3 separate regions of the Homo sapiens genome follow, and regions 2 and 3 are each reported to be linked to region 1. The links are microRNA targets in miRTarBase. Many come from high-throughput screens and were not tested one by one. Region 1 holds a microRNA gene; each other region holds the end of a gene's coding sequence.
Evidence for each region. Region 1 holds the annotated microRNA hsa-miR-6763-3p (CUCCCCGGCCUCUGCCCCCAG, at 1,382-1,402, opposite strand). A microRNA usually pairs through its seed, bases 2 to 8, with sites in the 3' UTR of a target mRNA and lowers its output. Matches are read on the target gene's strand: a 7mer-m8 pairs with bases 2 to 8, a 7mer-A1 pairs with bases 2 to 7 and ends in A, and an 8mer does both.

Region 1 (4,000 bases):
GTGGGGCTCGCGGTCGCGGTAGGGGCGCTCCGGGGGCTCCAAGAGGGCGGCGGAGCCCGGGGCGGGGGCGGCAGCGGGGAAGGCGCGACGTGGCAGCTCCAGGCCGCGGAAAGGCTCCCACGCGAAGCCCGGCGCGCCCAGGCGCTCGCGGCCCAGGCCGAGCTGCAGGGGCGCGGGGTGCAGGCCGCCCGCCGGGGGCTCGGAGGCCTCGTCCTCCCCGCGCTCCTCCTTGACCTTCACGTCTCCAGGGGCCGCCTTGCTGTGGGGCGGGGATGCGCGCGCGGGCATCTTGGCGGCCTCCTCCTTGGCCGGGGAGCGGCTCTCCTTGACCCGAGGTTCGGCCTCGCGCTCCGCGGGGGCCCCGGACCGGCCCAGCTCGCTCTGGGCCCGGAGCAGGAGGCCGCTGACGGGGTGGCCAGCGGGGGTGGCGGGCGAGGCCCGGCTCAGCAGGCGCGTCTTCTCCAGGAGGTCCCTGGGGGCGGCAGGGCGGACCCGTCACTCCCGAGACCTCCGTCCTGCCGCGCGGCGCAGCCCCGGGATGTTCCCGTTGCTTGTCGGGGCCTCCAGTTTCTGGGTGGCCGGTGACCCCTCAGCACCCACAGCTCCCGCACCCCCACAGGCTCCCAAAACCTACGCGTCCTCTCCCCGCTGGGCGGCCTGGAAACCTTGGCCGGGAGACGGAAGCGGGATGAGCCGCCTGCAGCGACTTCGGCTCCCCACGGGCCCCTCCCTGTTAGGACAGGGGGGCCTCCCGGCAGCCGCACCCCCGAACTCCTCCCTCAAACTCCGTGGGTCAGGGCGCGGCCACCTGGAGGTCTCCCGGATGGCAGGTGTGGGTGCCTGTGGTGGGGTCTTCACCCTCCTCATCCTTCCTAGCCCCAGGGCCCAGGCTTCACTCCCCACCGCAGGGAGGAGTCGCCGGGGAGCAGAGCTTTGGCCCCCGTACCCCGGGGCTCAGCAGAGCTGGACAGACTGTGAGTGCGCAGCAGTGGGGCGAGGAGGGTGAGAGGGAATGGGGGAGGGGGAACGGGGAAGGGGAACAGGGGGAGGGGGAACGGTGAGGGAGAGGAAACGGGGAGAAGAGGGAACGGGGGAGGGGGAACCGGGGATGACGGGAGGGGGGAAAGAACGGGGTAGGGGTGTGTGGTGGGGATACGGAACAAGAGGGCCACTCACCGTTCCTGCTCCTCCTTGCCATTGTCCGGCTCTCGGTCATGGTTGGTCAGGGCTGACACCCGCTCCGCGTCCACGGACTTGGGCCACGGGGGCGGAGCCGGGAAGGAGGGCGGTGCCCGGTGCAGTCGGTTCCAGGCCTCATGGGGGCTGGGCAGGCCGTGCACGGAGGAGCCCTCCTTGGGGGCAAAGATGCTGCCACCGGGAGCTGGGGGCAGAGGCCGGGGAGCATGAGGTTGGGTCTGTCTGCTCCCCAGCCACTCCCCAGGAGAACCCGGTAGGGGTTTTAGAAGGGTCCCAGGCTGACACTGAGAAGGGGGTGCCCCAAGGAGGCCCAGCCCAGAGAGGAGGGAGGTCAGCCAGGCATCGGGGTTCCTGCAGAGGACACAGGCATGGGGGAGGGGCGCGGGCATCGGGGGAGGGGGGCACAGGCTGGGTCACTCACCCAGTGCATGGCTGCCCAGGCCCCCAAAGGCGTGGCTGCTCAGGCTGCCCAGGCCCCCAAAGGTGCTCGGTCTGCTGAAAGGGTCTGTGGGGGCAACCGCGGGACCCAGAGGTCTGTGAGGCGTGGGCTGCGGCTCCCACCTGGCCCAGTGGGGGCTGCTGTAGAGGCTTTGGGCCTGGTGGGTACTGCCTGCATGACCCAAGGGGCTCCCTGGGGCTCGGGGCCACCTTCCCGCCCACCTAATTCCCCCGCCACAAGGCTGCTGAGGAACCAGCCAGGCTGCGTGGGCTGAATTCAGAGACACCCACCTGTCAGGGGGCCAGTGGGCAGGAAGCTGCCAGGATGGGCTGAGGGTCCAAATGGGTTGGAGGCAGGATGGGCGGCACCTGGGGGGGGCAGCCAGGTTTGACAGAAGCCAGGAGAGAGCACCAGGGCCTCCCATCTGCAGCTCTGTTCACAGGGAGCACCCCAATTTCCTCTGTGAACCTTCACCTCCCATTCTCTCGCATGCCCTGAGGGGTGAAGCGTGTCCAGTCAGAGTAAGAGGTGGAATCTACCCCACAATTCGGAGGAGGTTTGACTTGGAGCCGCAGTGGCAGCCATCCTGGGACCCCAAGGGGGGCAGGGAGGGAGGTGCTGAGTGCGATGCAACCCTCGGAGCAAAGGGGCTGCAACTTGGGCAGAGACAAAGTCCAAGTAACATGCACCTTGATCGGACCACTCCTGAAGCCTTTATCTCAGAGCTTTCACCTGGGAGCTGATAGATGGTCCTCACTTCTTAATGTGGTGCTGGGCCTCAGGCCTGGATGGACACGGTTCTGTCTTGGAGGCTGCACATGGCAGCCCCTTGTGGCATTCCTGGGCACAGGCCCAGCCCACAGCACCACGTCAACATCAGCCCTGGCCCCCCAACAACCCTTGGAGAGCAACCGTGTGGGGCCTGGGCCCGGGCCCTGGGAGGGGCTGCTGCAGGGGATTCAGTGCTGTTGGTCAGGGGCCGTCCTCCACATGGGTCCAGAGAGCAGGTTTCTGGTAAAGACCAGCAGGGCGTCATCTTTAGGTTACTCCGACTCCCTCCCAGCCCTAATCTTAGGGACCTCAAAGATGGGGTGCTCATGCCTCCCATGTAGGACGCGGCAAGTTGTATTCAGAGCTTCTGGTCTCCACTGAGCTGTGGCATGAAAGCTGATGCCACTCTTCTAAACTAGAGAGGAAGACAGCCTGCCCCATGCTACGAAAACACAGCTTGTCAAAGCGTGTGCAGGAGGAGATGGAGAGTACACTGCCTCAAATGCCCGCACTGGGAGAGGCTGAGGAATTAATATTCTCAACCACCAGATCAAGCTAGACAGGGCCAGAAAAGTGAGCGACACACAGGGAAACACACAGAGAAGGCAGCGAGGTCAGAGCTGCTCCTTTAAAAATACTGGTGAAATTGGCCGGGCGCAGTGGCTCACGCCTGTAATCCCAGCACTTTGGGAGGCCGAGGCAGGAGGATCATCTGAGGTCAGGAGTTTGAGACCAGCCTGGCCAACATGGTGAAACCATGTCTCTACTAAAAATACAAAAATTAGCCAGGTGTAGTGGCGCCTGCCTGTAGTCCCAGCCACTTGGGAGGCTGAGGCAGGAGAATCGCTTGAACCCGGGAGGTGGAGGTCGCAGTGAGCCAAGATCGCACCACTGCACTCCAGCCTGGCGACACAGCAAGACTTCGTCTCAAAATAAATAAATTAAAATAAAATACTGGTGAAATGGACAAACTTCTGGTGAGATTAATGAAGGAAAAAAGACGACACAGCCAAGCAACATTAAGAATTGCCAGGGCCTGCGGAGTTCAGGCGTGACGGATGGACACCGACAGCTACGGAGCCTGCCCCAAATCAACTTACTGGAAACACTCGCGTTACTGAAACCGATGCCAGAAGAAACAGCTTGAGGAATACCACACCCAGTGGAGAAAAAAAATCAGTACTTGGAACCTGAACTGTGAGCCTCCAAGCCTTGAAGGCAGTGAGGATCAGACCTCACAAGAGCTCTTCCAGAGAGCAGAAAAAAGGAAAGCGCCTTAACTCACTGAAGACGGCAAAGAGCCCTCGTGACAAAACCTGCCAGGTGCAGCACAGGAAAGTAAAGGCCAGGCTTACTCAGGAAACTCATCTGGAACAAAGCGCTGGAACAGTGGCTCCAGAAACGTACCGACAGTTTACACAAGGGGGCAAACCACCCACTCCTAGATATGACTTTCTACACAGAAAAGGTAAAGGAATTGACAGACAAATGTCTTTGCATTCGTAAGAATTTAGCAGGATTGCTAGTTACAGCATCAAGAGATGGCATACAAATCTTCAAAACAGATACGCACTTCTGTTTTCTAGCAACAGC
Region 2 (8,502 bases), not on the chromosome of region 1:
TAAATAAATAAATCCCAGGGTACTGGAGCTAGCAAGCAGCAGAGGCAGGATTTGAACCCAGGGTACTAATGGAGTCCATCCCATGGGGTTGTCATGAGGTCTGCAGGGGCTAATGTGTGCCAAGGACAGGCCTTATCTGGGCCCACTACATGCAGGGGGTCTGTGAAAAAAGGAGGCTTAGCAGGAATGGGGAAGGCGGCCTTTGGGGCTGGCTGGTTTCTACTTTGTCCTTGTGTGTTTGAAACAGAATGGAGCCCAATGCTACGTTCACCACGCAGCTCACGGCCACACCTGAGCGACTGCTCCGACTCATCTCTGCTGGGGTCTGTGGCCTCATCCTGCTGGTGGGGCTGTCAGCTAATGGGCTCATGCTGCTGGTGGTGGGCCGGGGCCCGGGCTCCCCCCACCCGCTCCACTCCCTGACCCACAGCCTCATGATGAACATCACGCCATCTGACCTGCTCTTCCTGGCCTGCGTGGTGCCTGTGCTGCTGCTGAGCTTCCTGCAGCACAACTGGTGGCTGGGCCCTGCCATCTGCACCATTAGCCAGGCCACCAACACAGCCACCACGTTCTGCATCTTCTATAGCATGGTGGCCACAGCTCTCCTGCGCCATGTGGCTGTGGCCCGGCCTGACCTGGCCTTCCCAGCCGGCTGGGGCACCCTCTTGCTGCTCTGTGGGGCCATGTGGGCCCTGGGCCTTACAGAATCCCTGCCCAACTGGCTGTTCCAGAGGGTGGCAGTGGAGGAGGAGACAGCGGGGGCTCCCAAGACCCAGGCCTGCCTCTTGCTCCTGAGCCCTGCTGGGACCTCCTGCTACATCAGCCTGCTGGGAGCCCTGGCCTTCCTGCCATGCACGCTGGGGCTGGGCTGCTCTTTCAGCCACGTGGGCTGGCTCCTGTGGACCCAGCCCCAAGGTCCCATGGGAGAGAGCATCCAGGAGCATTAAGAGAACATAGGGCTCAGCCTTGTGGTGCTGGTGGTTTTTGTGCTGATGTGGGGGCCCTGCTCCATGCTGGGTTATGTGGCAGCCATGGGCTACCTGCCTGCCACACCGGCTGCTTTTGTGGCCTCCAGCCTCTGCACCATCCTGGCCTACTCCAATTGCGCTGTCAGCCCTATCCTCTGCTTCTACCTCTCCCGCCCCTTCCAGGCAGGACTCAGGGACCTCTTCTGCAGGCCGATGATGGCCAGGCATCCCAGAGGTGTGGGAGTGGCAGCCTCAGTGGTGGCGACTGTCCAGCCTGGCCGTGACAGGGCCTCAGGAGGCCTGTGGGGCCTGGCGGGGGTCTAAGAGTATAGGCTGATGGATGCGCTGAGATTCAAGGGAGATGGGAAGACCCTTAGGGACCTGACAGCCCATCCCCTCTATTTTACCAGTGGAGAGACTGAGACCCAGAGGGCAGATGGCCCAAACAAGGTCACAAAGCAACTAAATGGCTCAGCTAGAGCTCACATCTCTAGGTAACCAGATGGATCCTCCCACTCCACTTTCAGGCTCAGATCTCTGTAGGCTCCACTGCTCTCTAATTGTGTGATCTTGAGCCTCTGTGTCTCAGTGTTCTCATCTGGAAAATGGGATGATGACAGTACATACCTTCTTCACAGGGTTGTTATGAAGATGAATTTGCTAAACACATGTAAAGTGCTTAGAAGGATGCTTAGTAAGTGCATATGCGTGCTGGTCATTGCTACTATTATTATTTTATTTGTATTAATTCAGGGGTATTTGAGGTGAGTGGACAAGAGGAGGACAGAGGGGCTTCCAAAGGCAGAGAAGTGGGTGGAGAATGATCTGGGGGGTAACAGCCTAGGGTCCTTAATCCTGAAGGCCAGGAGATTGAGTAGGGGGAGCAGAGGGCCAGCCACAGCCTGGGGGGTGAGCTCAGAGGCAGGACAGCCTTTCCCCTCTCTGCCCACCCCTCCAGCTCTGTTCCACACACCCCTCAGTCCAATAGGGGGACAAAAATCCAGTCAACCATGCAGCCATGACTCCGGGACTGTGAATGTCTGAAGCCCTCCTTTCTTCCCTGTGGCTTCTCTTCCTGAAGCACCTGGGGCAGGGATCCCTTTCAGAGCCCTTTTCTTCTCTCCAGAGCCCAATTTGAGGTTTCCATTTTTCCCACCCTCAGTGCCCTCCCTCTGGCCTGCTCAGGGCAGGCTTCAGGCTTCCATGTTGGCCTGGAAACCCGGGAGATTGTCTCTACTGAAATTCCCAAGACAGCACGTTCTGCTTGGTGACGGTGTTACCAGCAAAACACACATACACACACTGACTCTGTGATACAAAGCTTGAGAAACGTTGGGTTGAACCAAATCATACTGGTCCCTTTGCTGTAGGACTTACCAGAGCCTTGAATACCCAAAAGGCCACTGAGACTCTCGAGAGGGACGCACAGCAGGCAGGTTCCCAAACTCCATGCCAGAGAGCCAGTATTCTGTGGAACACACCTTGGGAAAGAATCCACAAGATGCTACGGTGTTGGGCACAGCAAAGATGCTCTTGGTGTCCCGTCCCGCCCCCGGCAGTGGCTCTGTGCCTCAGTCCCCCTGCCAGGCAAGCACCCTCTCCTGACACTTTCCCACGGCCCCTGTGGTGAGGTGACATGAGCTGCTGGTTATGGGAACTTCCCTCCTTCCAAGCTGTGACCCCACCCTGTTCCCACTCAAAGCATATCAGAATGTAAGTCACAGGGGCATGTAATTATAGGGACAGCCGTGAATCAGCACCCATTTACTATAAAATCATAAGAAGTAAACAAGTCCCAAACTTTGGTATAATTAGTTCCAAATTTCTTGTGATGTTCAGGGTGGGAATGGCTGCCTGGAGGGCTAATCTGGGAACAAACTTGCCCAGAGAAGGGAGAAATCCCCTTTTGCTATGATCCTGGTCCCTGATGGCCACAGGGATTTATATGTGAAGAGGAACAAGAGGAAAACAGTGTTTCTTGGGCACCTAAAATGCCATGGGTCCTGGGCGCATGTCACATATGTCACATGCAACCTTATGTACTCGTCACTCTGGCCACACGATGACCCTGCAAGGATGGGGGTGGTGGTGACGACCCCATTGCACAGGGGATGCCAGACTCCTCCTCATGGCACAGTGACTCTGGTGCCCACAGATTACCCAGCCCCTCCTGATGGCTTGGCATCAGTACCCCATGGTTGTAGTATTTCCTCGCTCACTGCCCCAGAGCAGGGGCACCCCTGAGGGTGCAATTCTGTGTGTGCATCTCCAGCATGGTCTCCAATACGTGAGTGGGGCCTGGCACTCATGTTTGGTAAATACTTGTTGAGAGATGAGTGAATGAGTGATCAAATGCAATAAAGCAATCCGTTTATTTTAGAGGAAATTCTGATGATGTTACTCACTTCTCTCACCTCCTCAATGGCTTCCCGTTTCACTCAGTAAATGCCAAAGGCCTCATCATGGCCTATGCGGCCTGTGCATTCTGGCCTCTTCACCTCTCCGACCCCATCTCTAGCACTTTCCCTTCCTGCACTCAGCTCCAGCCACACTGGCCTCGCTCTCCTGCAAATGCACCAAGGAAGCTCCTACCACAGGGCCTTTGCGCCTGCTGGTCCCTCTACTTAGAGCTCCCTTCCCCAGATATCAGCGTGGCTCCCTGTCTTACTTCCTGGGGGCTCACCTCAACCATGACCTCCTCTGAGAGGCCCTCTCTGACCACCTCATCGAAAACATCACCCTCCTTCTCCCTCATGTGTCTTTAGAACTCTTGCTACCACCTGAAATGATGTTACTAGCCTATTTGTTGATGTGTTTGCTGGGTCTCTCCCATATTATCTGTGTGTGTGTTGTAAGCCCTGTGCAGGGACAGGGTCTGTGCTTTGTTCATGGCTGCATCCTCAATGCCTAGCACAGAGCGTGGCACGTGGCCTTTGATTGTAAATCTCACTGAAGCAAACAATTGAAGGAAGCCACAGAGGAGAACTGGACCCTGTCAAGCAGCAACGTCAGTGCTATTTTTCAGAGAAGAAAGAAAAACTTCGTGCTTTACTAAAAGAACCAAATTTACTTCAGTTTAAGGCAAATTCCACACAGAGACTGTCTCAGAGACGGGCACAGAACCAGACACCGTAGAAACACCACCACCATGCATGACGGGGAAGCAGAGGCAGGCGGAAGACGGGGGCCTGGCCTGCACCAGGCACGGAGAGGTCAGTGGGCTGAGGAGCTCCATGCGGCAACAGGGATTGGCATGCATGATCTGCTCCCCGAGTGGGCAAAGGCTGGGCAGCTGGGTGGGCCCGGGAGGGAGATCCCCTTCTTCCCCACCTTTCCCACAGCAGGGGCAGGAGCTCGGGCTCAGATGCCAGAGCCCCAGGCTGAAGGACTAGGGTATGTTTGGGGTGATGGGATGAGACAGGGTGACCCAAAAGCCAAGGCGGCCTCAAGTAGGGTCACATCTGTTAGGAGTAGGATGGGGGGAACTGGGCATGGGATGAATGACCCTCAGGATGTCAGACCTAAAGGAAAACCTGGGGCCATCTGGTCAACCCTCTTGTGGTACAGACATGGAAACTGAGGCCCAAAAGGTAGAAGGGCCTTGCTTGGGTTCCCACATTAGGCAGTGGGGGGAGGCAGGGCTCAAACCCAGGACTCCTGTCTCCTAGCCTCATGGGATACAGGGCAAAGAGCAGGAGCAGTGTGGGAACGTGGGGCTGAGCCACTCCTTACTCAGGCCTCCAGATGGGCAGAGGCGTGGGCACCGAGGGCCCTGGGAAGCCTCTGGAGGGAGGAAGGGATTCCTGAAGCCAGGAGTCAACCATGGAAGTACCTGTGGGCCCACACCAGGGAGAGGCCTCCACAGGCCATCTGTGTGTCTAGAACTTGCATCGTACTGAGTTCGAGAGGCACCAGAAAGGGCTCTGTGCTGAGCAGCCTCCACTTCAGGCCCATCACATGGCCTACGGTCCATGATTACAGCACCCCATGGGGTCCCCGGGGCTCCCAGCGCATCCAGTGTCCCTGGGAGGGTGCACATGTTCAGGCCTTCCTGCAAACCCATCAGCTTCATGGGGTTCACTGGAAATCGGGCACAGGATAGACCACAGGGCGGGGCTCAGGGACAGGAGTAGACACCATGGGAGGATGGGACGGAGATGGGGGGCTGGAGGAGGCCAAGCCCAGGCTTCAGGGTGACAGGTAAGCAAATAGGATTGCCGGGGGTGGGCGACAGGGACCCCAATCACCCTTATTGTTTACACCTTCCTGGCTGGGTTAGAGCCAGGTATTGGGGAAGAAGAGAAGGGCTGGGTCCCTGTGTACCCCTCTTTCACCCGTACCCCCCTAACTCCCTGGGTTTGGGCAATAAGTGAGGCCAAGAAATTGAGGAGGGGTCTTCAGAAGCCCCACCCCCTGGCAGCCTCCCAGGCACACAGATGTCCCAAAGGCCGGGCAGGCCAACTTCGGGGAGTCTGGGGCCCTGGCCTCCCATTCACCTGGCCTCTCCCAGGCCCCAGCCACCTGCCTGCTGAGACCAGGTTCAGATGTGCGTGTGCAGGGGGGACGCAGGGGGCGTGCGGGCTGGGGACTGCGAGGGCGAGTGGGTTGGTGCTGCGGGTGGGGGACGCGGGCGAATGCCCTGTGCCTTCATGTAGGACACCAGTTGGTCAGGGATCTCTGCCAGCACGTCTCGGGCCAGGCGGGCCATGCTCAGCACGTGGTTGCCTGTGCGGTCCACGTAGTCCCGGAAGGGTACAAACTGGCAAGTGGGAGGGCAGGGTCAGGCAGTGCCTCCTGTGGGACCCTGGCCCCCAAAATCTCCAGGCCTGGGGTTGCATCCCCACCCCCCTCCCAGCCTCTGCTCACTTGACTCAATCCCCCCACCTTTCTGAATTACCTGAGGGACTGTATCCCTCAACTCCCTGGGTTTGGGCAGTCAGTAACTATAGTCATAGTCACTATTCTTTCATTCACTCGACAAAAACTGAGCCCTATTCCACACCAGGACACACCACTGAACACGATTTCTCCACCTCGGCACTAAGCACAGGCTCTGAGTAGGTGCTTCCGAAATGCCAACTGAATCCCTGACTTCTGGGGCACGTGCCCTCCTGGGTTTCCCCCGACCTGTCCAGCAGAGCCCTCTCTCTCTGGCCTCTCTTCGTTCCTTTTCTCTCTGGGGCTAATCTGGCCAATGCCTAATGCCAGGCCCATCTGGCTTCTTCCCGGGGGTGCCCTCCATCCTGAGCGCCTCTTCTGGCTCACTCCTGCCTCCAGGCCTTAGCATGGGCCGGTCCCACCTCCCAGGTTGTCTTGCTCTGGTTTCCAGCCCCCTATGTTTGGTCTCCACACCTGGGATACTGGGCCCCAATTTTTAAACCAAGGGGGTATGCAGGATGTCAGCTTTGTCTTCTGCATCTCCTAAGCACTAGGGCCTCCTCTGCAGGGGATGAGTGGGGGAAGTGCTTGCGGAGGGTGCATTCTTCCACGTGAGACTGCATGGGAATTCCCTGAGGACAAAGGTCTTTCTGCTCATTATATTTGCACCGTTCATGGAGATGCTTACATTGATTCAGTTAACCGAGCAATGCCTATTCTTGGAGAAGGCTGCAGCAACACTAAAGACACTGCCTCAGCCTTCAAGGGGCAGAAAAAAACCAGAACGAGGCTGACCACAGAGGCCTGGAGGCTGAGGAAGGGCTGGCAGAGGGTTCTGGCCTCTGGCTGGGCACCCGCAATGTTAGGAGTGTGTCCCAGATGTGACAGAGGGGGGCCCAGCCCAGACCACAGCATGGCCGAGGACTGACTCCTACTCCCTTCGGTGGTGGCTGGGCCACTTTGGGGCTCCCAGTGCCTCCCTTCTGGGCCCTTCACCAGGGAAGCCCCCAAAGGGGGTGTGAGGTCCGCCTGGCTAGAGGGGCTCTTGAATTTCCCATGGGGCAGGCAAGGCCTGGGCTTCACCTGGACGATGTCGCGTTCAGCCAGCTTCCCCCGGGAGGAGATCCGCACGTCGTCGCCATCCAGCTCCACCATGGCTGTGAGGGGAGGAGTGTCATGGGGCGGGGTGAGATTAACGGTGGACCCCTGGCCCTAGCAGGAGAGTGGACTTGTCCTTTCATCCCAGGCCAATCCAGGGCCGAGACCACTGGCCCATGCCCCGTGTTAGAGATGAGGAAACTGAGGCCAGGGGCCAGGAGGAGCCCGATCAGGTGAGCCTCTGACTTTGAGCCCAGTGCTTTGGTTCACCACCCTCCCCAGACTCCCAGGGCTGGAGGAGAAAGAAGTGACTTGGGGCCTCCTCCCCACAGCCTTGGGATGTGGGTGTGGGTGCACACCCAGACCTGACACACCCTTCCCTGAGCAAACAAATGCGTCCCACACCCTGCACACTCACCCAGACACACACGCCCAGGCGGGAGCTCTCACTCTTTTGGGAGGGGTCATTCCCAGGGGACCACAGCCTCTGGGGAAACATCTGGGGTGGGGGCAGGGTTGCGTGGCTAGGGAAGGAAAGGAGGGGAAGGCAGCAGCTGGACTCACCGTCGAACTCTGCCTGGCCCACGCCGACGATAATGATGGACATGGGGAGCTTGGCAGCCTGGGAGACAGCATGGGGGGCAGGGAAAGGTTGGACCCAATTGGGACCCAGTTAAAAGGAAGGAGAAATCAGGGGTAGGACAGGAAGGGGTGGGCAGGAAAGAAATGGGAGAGTGAACATGGAGAGACAGAGAAACACAGAAAAGGGGGTAGGGAGAGGGAGGGCACTCAGAGATAAAGAGCAAAGGAAACCAGGCTGCGCCTGGAGGAGAGAGGGAGGGTGGCAGGGGGAATGGGTCATAGGTCTGCTTTGGTGAGTCACCCCCATCCCCTCTTACAGGGAGACCACCGGCTTGGGGAGCCATGTTCCTGAGCTTCCCCAACTCTGAGCCTCCCCTCCCACTCCTTTGACCTGGCCAGGCTGGCCTGGGAAAGGGGGAAGCGGTCCTAGAGATGGGTTAATGAGGGAGTCATTGGGGTCTGGAGGGAGTAGACCAGAGCGTGACTAAGAGGTGGGAACAGAGCTCACCAGCCAGATCTCTCATGATCTGGGCACCCCTTCCACCCGCTAGAATCCACTATCCAGCACCGGACTCTGCAGCCAGAGGCCAGAAGGTGGATGAGGGCAGTGGGGCCCAGTGAGGCAGGGAAATGAGAAGCCACGCCCAAGTCATCTCCAAGCATTTCCCTAAGGTCAAGGAGGTAGGCACATCCCCAGGGTTCCCCTAACGGGGAGGAAGACACTCCTCAAACCGCCTCCCCCACCGCACACTCCTTGCTTACGTTGACAATGGCCTCCTTGGTCTGCGCCATGTCCGAGATGACCCCATCAGTAATGATGAGCAGCACCGAGTACTGGGAGCCATCCTGCACGGCCGCTGCATTCCTGGGTGGGGCAGGTGTGGGCTCAGGTCTGTCTGCGGGACCTCTGGGCATGTTCCCCCCTAAACAAGGACCCTGAACACTTTGGAGGGTGACAGCTCTTGGGGGAATC
Region 3 (8,502 bases), not on the chromosome of region 1:
AGGTAGTAGTGACAAGAAGAGAGCATGGGGGTACTTTCCGGGGACTGATAATGTTCTGCTTCTTCATCTGGGAGTTGGTAGCATGGAAGGGTTCCGTTTATAAAGATAGAGCGAGCCGTACGCTTGGGGTTTTCTATATGTATCTCCCACTCCAATAAGAAGTTTACTAATCGCTCCTTTGGAAAACCTCAGCTGTTATTAATCTGTTACTTACAATCTAGGTGGGGTGGGGTGGGGGCATATTTTCAACAAAGCAAACGTGGTTTAGAGATCAGTGCCCCCTCCCCCTGACGCCTCCCCAGGACTCCCTGCAGGGGCCTCCCCGTGCCCCTTAAGCCCCACCCAGGACGTCCTACCTCCGCGACCGTCAGGACTGCTGGCTCTTGCAGTTTGGACTCTCACCTGCAGAGTCGGCTAGGCTCTCCCGGGGCTCGCCGGGGCACTCCCGGCCCAGCTGGCTCTGACCGCCCCGGGCCCGCCTGGGAAGCAGCGGCCGGCCCCTGAGCGCCCCGCCCCGTGGCACCTGCGCTGCTCCGGGCGGTTAGAAAGGATCCTTCCCTCTCGCGCGGGGCCAGACTGCACTGAACTCTCTCCAGTCGCGGACAAATCACAGTCCTTCCAGGGCTCGGGCCCCTGGAGTTGGGAGGAGGCGCCCGGGAAGTCCCCACTGGCGTCCTGAACCAGAAAGCGAGGAACTGGGCGGCTGCGACTGGGGCCTTGGACCTCCCGGTCTCCCGCGCGAGTCTCCAGGGAAGCCCCTGCCCACCCGGCCCCACCCTGGCAGAGGCGCGGCCCCAAGTCACTCCGGCGGCGCGCGCGGGCCCGGGAGAAGCCCCGCGGAGAGGGGCCGGGTTTCCACTCCTTACCCTTTCCTCCCTGCAGTGGTGGGCTAGAGAGGACTCGAACCTCCCCCAGGAAACGTCCTTCCACCTTCCCCTTCTGTCGAATGTCCCAGATGCAGCCGAAATCAAAGCCCTGCAGACCCCGCCGGGCGCCACCTGTCCCAGGTTTACCCGCAATGGCTCTGCCGGATCTCTGTGGTGACACGCGCCCGCGGAGCTGGGGTTTTCGGTCCTTGTGCCGCCCTGTTTCCCACGACCCCCCCCGCGCCCCTGTTCCCACCCCCCTGTTTCCACCCCCCTCACCCCGGGGACCTGGGAGTGCCTCGAGGGCGGAATAGAGTCCTAGACATCTTCCTAGAACGTCGACGCAATATCCTAGGTATTGAGATTGATCATCTTATTTAACTTTTAAAGCCAAAATGATTGATACACGAATGTTTACTATATAAACATTCACTGAGTTGCATCCTTAACTATTTGCATGTTTTACTGTAGGCAAAAAAAAAAAAAAGAGGTGCTACAAGCATACCCATTTTATAGAGGAAGAAACTGAGGTTCAGGGCACTTCTAACTTATTCAAAGTTTCCACTGCTGGTTGTGGTGCTGCTGAGAATAGAATAGACTCAGTCTGACTTCAGAGTTCATCCTCTTAACTCCTCAAGATCAGGCTTTGCAGGAAAAAGTACTAGCCATCTAAAACCTATCCCACTTCTTCCCTCAGTGGTGCCAACCCACCCTGAGCTTATTGGGTGGGGAGGGGTTACACACTCATCCAAGGGAACCCAGGAGGGTTGAACCTGAAGTGACCTCTGAAATCATATGGTTCACCCTTCTCTCTACCATAGATCTCAAAAACCACAGCCCAGAGGAACAACTTACTTGGCCTGTCCCAAGTCTCATGGGTCATTAGAAGGCCTGCCTGGATTTTGATTCCTCCTGACTCACAGGACAATTTAATGAAGCAGCAGTTTGTCCTGTCAGGGGGAACTTTTACCCTGGAGAGGGAGCCCAAGGAAGAGGTACCTGCGTTGGTCAAGGGTTTTCAACCTCTGATGGAGGAACCCCAGCAAGGAGCAGTAGGGAAATCCTCCAGTGAAGTGGTGGGAGCTATTTATACCTGGAGACTGCAGGCTCCGGAGCAGGGTAGGGAGCGGGCTGGTCTAGGCTGGCTTCAAGTATCTCAAGACACGCAAACTTGCGGAAGCCAATCCACAGAACCAGTTCTGTTTCCTCTGTGAGGATCACAAGCCACTTTTCCAGAACAAGAGGGAATGCAGAGTGAAGGAAGACCAACGCAGGGCAAGAGGAAGCCCAGCAAGGAAAGTGGGGGTGTGGTGCTGGGAGCACTGAGAGGCCAAGGCCCAGCAGGATAAGGGACTGCATTGGAGGCAAAGTAGTTGCTTACTTAGGAAACCCCCAGTGGAGCAAGGGCAGCTATTCCTAGAGACTTCAGTTCCAAGAGCGAAGGTGCTGGGGGAGTGAGCTCTCACAGGGTGCTTGCCCAGATCTTGCTGACTTTCCATTCCCTGCACCTAATGAATGTAGGGGAAGTCGAATTGGGTCCCAGACGCGGGTCCTGGGTTTCTTACACATCCTAGTGTTCCCCAGGCCCCAAATTTTGTGCCCTGGGGTCAAGGTCTTCACCAAGGTCTTAGCCTCCCTCCTATTCTAGGTATTGAGCTGTAGGACGAGGTGCAACATTGTGGGCAGGGATGTCCTTAGGCAGCATTAGGGGGTACAGAAGAGGTGGGACCTTCGGCTGGGTTGGAGATGGGTTGCCAAGTGTCCTGAACTAGGCCCAGGGAAGGCAAGATTCCAGTTCCACATTTCCCTCGAAGCTAGCAGCCAAGGCCACAGCTCAACAGCACCCAGGCAATTCAGGCAGCCATGAAGCACCAGGGAAGAGGTGCTGACAGAGCCCAGAGGGCATCCCACAACCCTCCTGGCCCCATGAGCTCCTACTGTGGTACCTGTCCCAGAGGGAAAAGATGCCAACCTGGCCCTCCACAACCTCCTGTGGAGAGAGAGAGACAAATAAATCTTTGCATGACACCATGTTATGATATTGGAAAGTACCTAAGACTCTGGTGGCACAAATGTGAGAGTGATTACCTCTACTTAGGTGGTTCAGGAAAGAAGCTTGGCCTTGAAGGAGAGGCAAAAGTTCACCAGAAAAATGGGGGTGGAAGGGCATTCCAGATGGACGGGAGGGCATGTGCTGAGGCATGGAGGCTGAGATAGCAAAGCACTGTTGGAATGACTTCGTTTTGTCATTCAGGCATTGACTTAAATGTAATCTCAACAGGCTTTCCCGACCGCCTACTTGAAAAGACCTCCGTTCCCAGCGTTTGGTTCTATTTCCTTTTTAGAATTCATCTTCTGTTTTTGCATTTGTTTATTGTCTCACCCTCCCTCCACCCACACCTTCACACCTGAAAATAAAATCCACCAATCTAGGGACACTTTTTTTTTCACCGTTCCCAGCAACTCAACAGTACAAGTGAATACATAGTAGGTGCTCAGTATACCTAGTTGAATGGATGAATGAATGAATGAAAGTCTGCAGCCGCAGGCTGTGAGAAGCAAGTAACAAGCCAAGAATTTCCTCTCCAGCCCTTGGCCTAAGCAATCCATGGAAAGGTAACGGCTCCAGAAGAGGGAGCGCGGTAGGGAAGGGGATTCGGGCATCACGGTGGTGGGAGGCTGTGTCCCAGTTCGGGGGCGACGTGAAAGAGGAGGGACCCGGCCGCGAGTTGCTGCGGGACCAGCAGTCTGGTGCACTGGCTCACGCTCGGCTCTGGGGTCTTTCTGCCGCCTGAGAGGCAAGGGGAGGGAAGGTCTTCGCTCCCCAAGTGCCGCTTCTCTAGCCTCCCGCTAGGCCCTTTCGGATGTGTCCAAGTCGCATCCTGGGCGGTCAGAGGGCTTCGGAGGGCTCCCTTGCCTGCCTGCCTCCCTCCCTCCCTTCCCTCCTTCTTTTTCTTCCTCCTCCTCGGGTCTCTACAGCTCCCCAGCCGGGCGGCCCCGCCACAGCCTAGCAGCCCCACCCCCTCCTGTAAGGGAGAAATTGCTAAACTTGTAGCAATAATGACCCAGCATTCAGGCCGCCGACTCCCGCTGAACGTCTCAGCGCCCCGGCCGGCCCGGCCTAATCAGCGCGCCCCTCCCTGCTGCCCGCCCAGCCCCCGTCCCCCTGCCGCCCCCTCCCCCAGAGCACAAAAAGTGGGGAACAAAACCCCCGCACATTTCTCCGTCCCTCTGTTGAGCAGACTGCTGCACAAAGCCCCCGCTCTGAGAAGCAATGGGGAGCTCGGGGGGGACGTCAATCCGACGCGCTGGGGTTTTTGTTCGCGCAGGGGACCTCGCCTTCCTACCACACCTTTTGTTCGGGACTCCAATAAAAAGCCATTCTTTCCGCACCTTCCCGGCCCGGAGCCGCCTTTCAGCGAGGCCCGGCCCCACAATGGCGCGGCGCTCTGAGGCCTCCCCATTCACCCGCCTTGGCACGCTCACAATCGGCCGTGTGGCAGCACAGGCCTCGCACAGGCATTCTCCGCAAGTGACAAGGAGCCGCATAAAGCCGCGGCCGCCGGGGGAGAAGGGAGGGCGGCCAAGGGGGAGAGCTCGGCCGCAGTGGGGCGCAGCGCAGCGCCCCCGGGCGCGTTGGTAGCCCTGGCTGCAGCCAGGGAAGGAGCCGCCTTCGCGCGGCCAACAGCTGGGACTGCGAGCGAGGCTTCCTTTTCCCTGGCGACCCTCGAGGTGGGGCAGAGTGCAAGACTTGACCGAACGCAGGTCTATACAGCTAGTCCAAGCATCTGGGTAAAACTTAGGGGGAACTGCAAAGCCAGGGACTTCAAATGGCCCTGAGCCTTCGACCTGTCCAGCCCTCAAGAGTAAACAGAAATTAATGAACAAAGCCCCGAAGAGATCAGACTTGCAGCCTGGGGCCTGGCTCATGGGAGACCAGGCCTGCGATCGCCCAGGGAGGATGGCTTTCCCCCTCGCACCTTTTCCTCCCCTTCCCGCCCTATTTAAAGGATTCCTCTCCACTCTTTGGGGCTAAACAAATTCTGTAGCCGGCCAACGATTTGAAAATATTGCACCTTGTTTATTGACTCCTGTAGTGTGTGGCAGCGGGTGTCTACACGGCGTGTGGTTATAGTTATATAGATAGATAGATAGATAACATGTGCTGAATACAGAATACGAAACAGAAAGGAAACCCGGTAACACCTCCGGTGGGCCACCAGGTCCTGAGTTTGTTCAGCCTCCCCCCACCCCCAACTTTTGATCTCATTCGGCTGGTTTTCCTCGAAGAGTCCTGCGTCCCCCGACAATCCGGAGATCTGGACCGAGGTATCTGCTGCGGAGGGGAGACAGCTGCGAAACGAAATCGACTGTGCTATGGCGCTCCAGGCCCGCAAAGGGGGCAGAGGATCGGTAGGGCCTGGAATTTCTCAAGCCACGACCCCCATTTTTCTCTCCTTCATGCTTTTAATTTGTTATGTCCTTGGGCTCCCCGCCAACGCTTCGCGGAGGCCGCGGAAAGGCAGAGGGAGAGAAGCCCTTCTCGCTTTGGAAGAACCAAGCGCGGCCAGGGTCCTAGCCTCCTGGTCTCCTCTCGCTGCCAGGGTCGGGGCCATCGTCCTCCCCGGCGCCCAGCCGGCGTTTCTGCCTCAGAGACAGTCCTGGCGACCGGACCCAGTCATCCTCCTCGCCCCTGAGTCCCCTTCCCCAGGCCTCGAGTGAGCTGCGATCCGAAGCCCTGAGGAGCTAGACGTACATATTTTTTTAACGAGGGGACCTGACCTTTAGGTCAGGCCCTTCTCGAGCTTCAGTCCCGCGGCGCCAGGCTGCGCTGGGGTGCCCGCCGCGTGACCCGCCCCGTCCCTACCAGGCCCGGATGCCCTGCAAGGTGCCCTGAGCGCACGCGGCCCCGGCTGCAGTACCCTGGTGCAACGGCTGTGCGCTGCCGCCGCTGCCGAAGCCTCCTAGGTTGCTCACGTTCACAAAGGGGCCGCCTCCGGCCGCGCTGCAGGCGGGCTGCATGGCAGTGGTCGCCGCGGAGGTCCCGCCGCCGCCGCCGCCGCCGCCCGCCGGGTACGCACAGCCATAGCTGCTGCTGTAGGCCGCCGCTGCTGCGGCGGCGGCGGCGGCGGCGGCGGCGGCCGCGGCCGAGTTCCCATAGCCGTAGGCGGGGAAGCTGTTGTAGGAGTAGGCGCTGGCGCCCACGCTGTAGGGCGCGCCGTAGGCCTGCGCGCTGGGCGTGACGCACGGCTTGCCGTCCCGCACCAGCACCGGGACAGCCACGCGGCGCGGCGGCGGCGGGGGCGCGTGTGCGCCAAGCTCCAGAGACTTGTCCTGCCGCTGTCTCTTGCACTTGTACCTGCGATTCTGGAACCAGATTTTCACCTGAGTGGATGTGAGCTTCAGGCTGCTGGCGAGGTGCTCGCGCTCGGGTGCCGACAGGTACCGCTGCTGCTTGAACCTGCGTTCCAGCTCGAAGACCTGGGCTTGCGAGAAGAGGACCCGGGGCTTCCGGCGGCTGCGTGGCTTCGGCCTCTCGCTCTCCTCCGCCGCCTTGCAGTCTCCGGCCGTCTCTAGAGACTTCTTCAGCTGGCAGCTTTCTGCGGAAGAAGCAAACAACAGCGTCCTTAGCTGTTCCCGGCCGCACCGCGGCTCCTGTCCTGGAGCACCGTGACCCTTTTTGGTGGCTGCGCAGAGCGTGCGGTAGTAAATGGCTGGACTTTTGGGAACGTTTGTGGCTCCTGGCGCTGTGGGACCCTGAGACAGCCCCAGTACCCAAAGAACGCCCTTAGCAGGCGGAGGCGCGTTTCGTGGAGAGGGGTAGTTAGTGCGTGTTTATTTGGATCTTGAGCATCTGCGAGAGAAGAGATTACTCTGTATTAAATATGCGGCTCGACGTGCTAATGACTATTTTCAGGATGAAGGCTTGCAACTACATAATAACTACAGTATTTGCAAACTCGTTTGCATTCTACTCCACCAAGGATAACTGAAGGTGTGAGGCGTGTTGGTATGAGTGGGCCGGTGGGCATGGGTTGCGCGAAAATCTGTTCTGAGTGTAACGCTTGTGCATGGCTCAGGGACTTGTGTGTGTGTGTGGCTTATAAAAGACTACAAGCGAATGTTATGACGACATCTGTGTGCACTTTGAAAATGAAGTTTGATTGACTAGTTATAGACAGTTTCATGCCGATTTTCGGCTCTGGGAACTATGAGAGCATAGGCCTTGGCCTCTGCCACATCAAACCGCCTCTTGGGGAAAGACTGTGATTCTGTCCTCTTAAATACACTTCCTTGGGGACTTTATTTGATTATCCCATCTCCCTATCAATTCACTTCCCATCCGATGTGAGCAGCCAAGATCTCGGACTCAAGTTCGGCGCGTTTTCTATTAGGCCCGCAGCCTGGGACACAAAGCAAAACGTTACGGATTTTCAAAAAAGGCTGGCGCCTTAGGGATGTGAGAGCTATGGTCGCGCGGAATAGACATTGTTCCCACGCACTTTCCGATCATCTCCTCTCTCTCTACCGAGTGCCACGGGTTCAAGGACGCTGAGCTCCAAGCAGAGAAGGGAGGAAACCGCCCAGCTGGCCTCCACCAAAGTTCCTGCCCCTGCGGGTGCGAGAGACACAGGCTGCTTGGGCTGTCTTTTCGGAGAAGAAGGGGTGGCTGCCCTGGGCTAAGAGAACTCATCTCACCCTAGAGGGAAAACGAAAAAGGTCCAGGCTCCTGCCCTTTTTGGGGGAAGAGCCTTTTGGGGCGGGGGGAAGAGCAAAAATACTGCCAGTTATGAGGACCCAGGCGCTGAGCCCACGTCGCCTCTCAGCATCAGGGCAGCAGTAACCACCTTCCCTTCCCTCATTTCCCCCTTTTGGGGGGAGTAGTTGTCAGGGTCACCTCGTCCTTGTCTCTCCACCCCGGCTCCCTTGCAGGTACCTGCGCTTTGTGGAGCTGTCGGTGACCAGGGCGGAGGCATGGCCCCAGCCAAAGGGTAAAGGGATGGGCAGCTGCGCTGGCAAGGTCTGTGGGCTGTTTGTGTGCGCTCTGCCATTGCTCCAGGTGTGCGGGTGCGTTTTCTTTCCCCCTCTACTCACTTTGGCTCCGGTCCCTCACGACCTCGGGCTCCTCTTCATGTTCCTTGGGCTCGCTGCACGAGTCTCGCAGGACCGTGTGGACATAGCCCTGGGGACACAGCCCTGAATCCCCGTGGCCGTCTGCTGCGGCTAGTGAGTTCAAATAGGACAATTTCTCGCCCTCGTCTTCCTCGTCCTCCTCCCCTCCGTCAGAAAATTGCGTCCCCTCAGCGGCGGCCAGCATGCAGGGCGCAGAGTGGAAGTGGTGCTCCAAGTCCGCCTGCAAGTGCGCACCATGGAAGTGCTGGTGCTGCTGCTCCAGATTCAAAATGTCTTTGACTGAGAAAGGGGTGGAGGTGACCGGGCTTGGTAACATCATCAGGGCCACTTAATTGTCCAGTCCAAATAATAAATCCCGGCGGGGGCGGGGAGGCAGCGCGGCGGCTCCAGCTCTCCTCCTGGACTCCGCCGCTGCTGCCGAGTCGGGCTTTTGACAGACGCGGTCCCACTCCAGTCTAAATCGCCTCCATTGGCCGGGACCTGGGGGTCTGGGTTTTGTTAC

Region 2: miRTarBase lists CPNE5 as a target of hsa-miR-6763-3p. Seed matches in the 3' UTR shown: 7mer-m8 at 4,965-4,971.
Region 3: miRTarBase lists NKX2-3 as a target of hsa-miR-6763-3p. Seed matches in the 3' UTR shown: 7mer-m8 at 5,488-5,494.

The regions. Positions count from the first base shown.
Region 1 is chr12:132,579,443-132,583,442 of GRCh38, reverse strand. MIR6763 (microRNA 6763) reads right to left here and starts at 1,446; the gene lies at 1,382-1,446. FBRSL1 (fibrosin like 1) reads right to left here. Exons shown (of 19, transcript NM_001367871.1): 16 at 1,927-2,004; 17 at 1,619-1,702; 18 at 1,177-1,381; 19 at 1-472.
Region 2 is chr6:36,736,757-36,745,258 of GRCh38, forward strand. It overlaps CPNE5 (copine 5), which reads right to left. Exons shown (of 21, transcript NM_020939.2): 18 at 8,292-8,394; 19 at 7,512-7,569; 20 at 6,933-7,006; 21 at 4,019-5,730. The coding sequence ends at 5,512. It also overlaps the pseudogene GPR166P. Among named protein-coding and RNA genes, the nearest start is that of RAB44, 43 kb to the left of the region's middle. RefSeq lists a silencer at 8,177-8,377.
Region 3 is chr10:99,532,949-99,541,450 of GRCh38, reverse strand. It overlaps NKX2-3 (NK2 homeobox 3), which reads right to left. Exons shown (of 2, transcript NM_145285.3): 1 at 7,962-8,502; 2 at 4,927-6,466. The coding sequence starts at 8,319. The coding sequence ends at 5,730. Among named protein-coding and RNA genes, the nearest start is that of NKX2-3, 4.3 kb to the right of the region's middle. RefSeq lists enhancers at 591-1,299, 8,288-8,502 and silencers at 4,342-4,421, 5,997-6,146.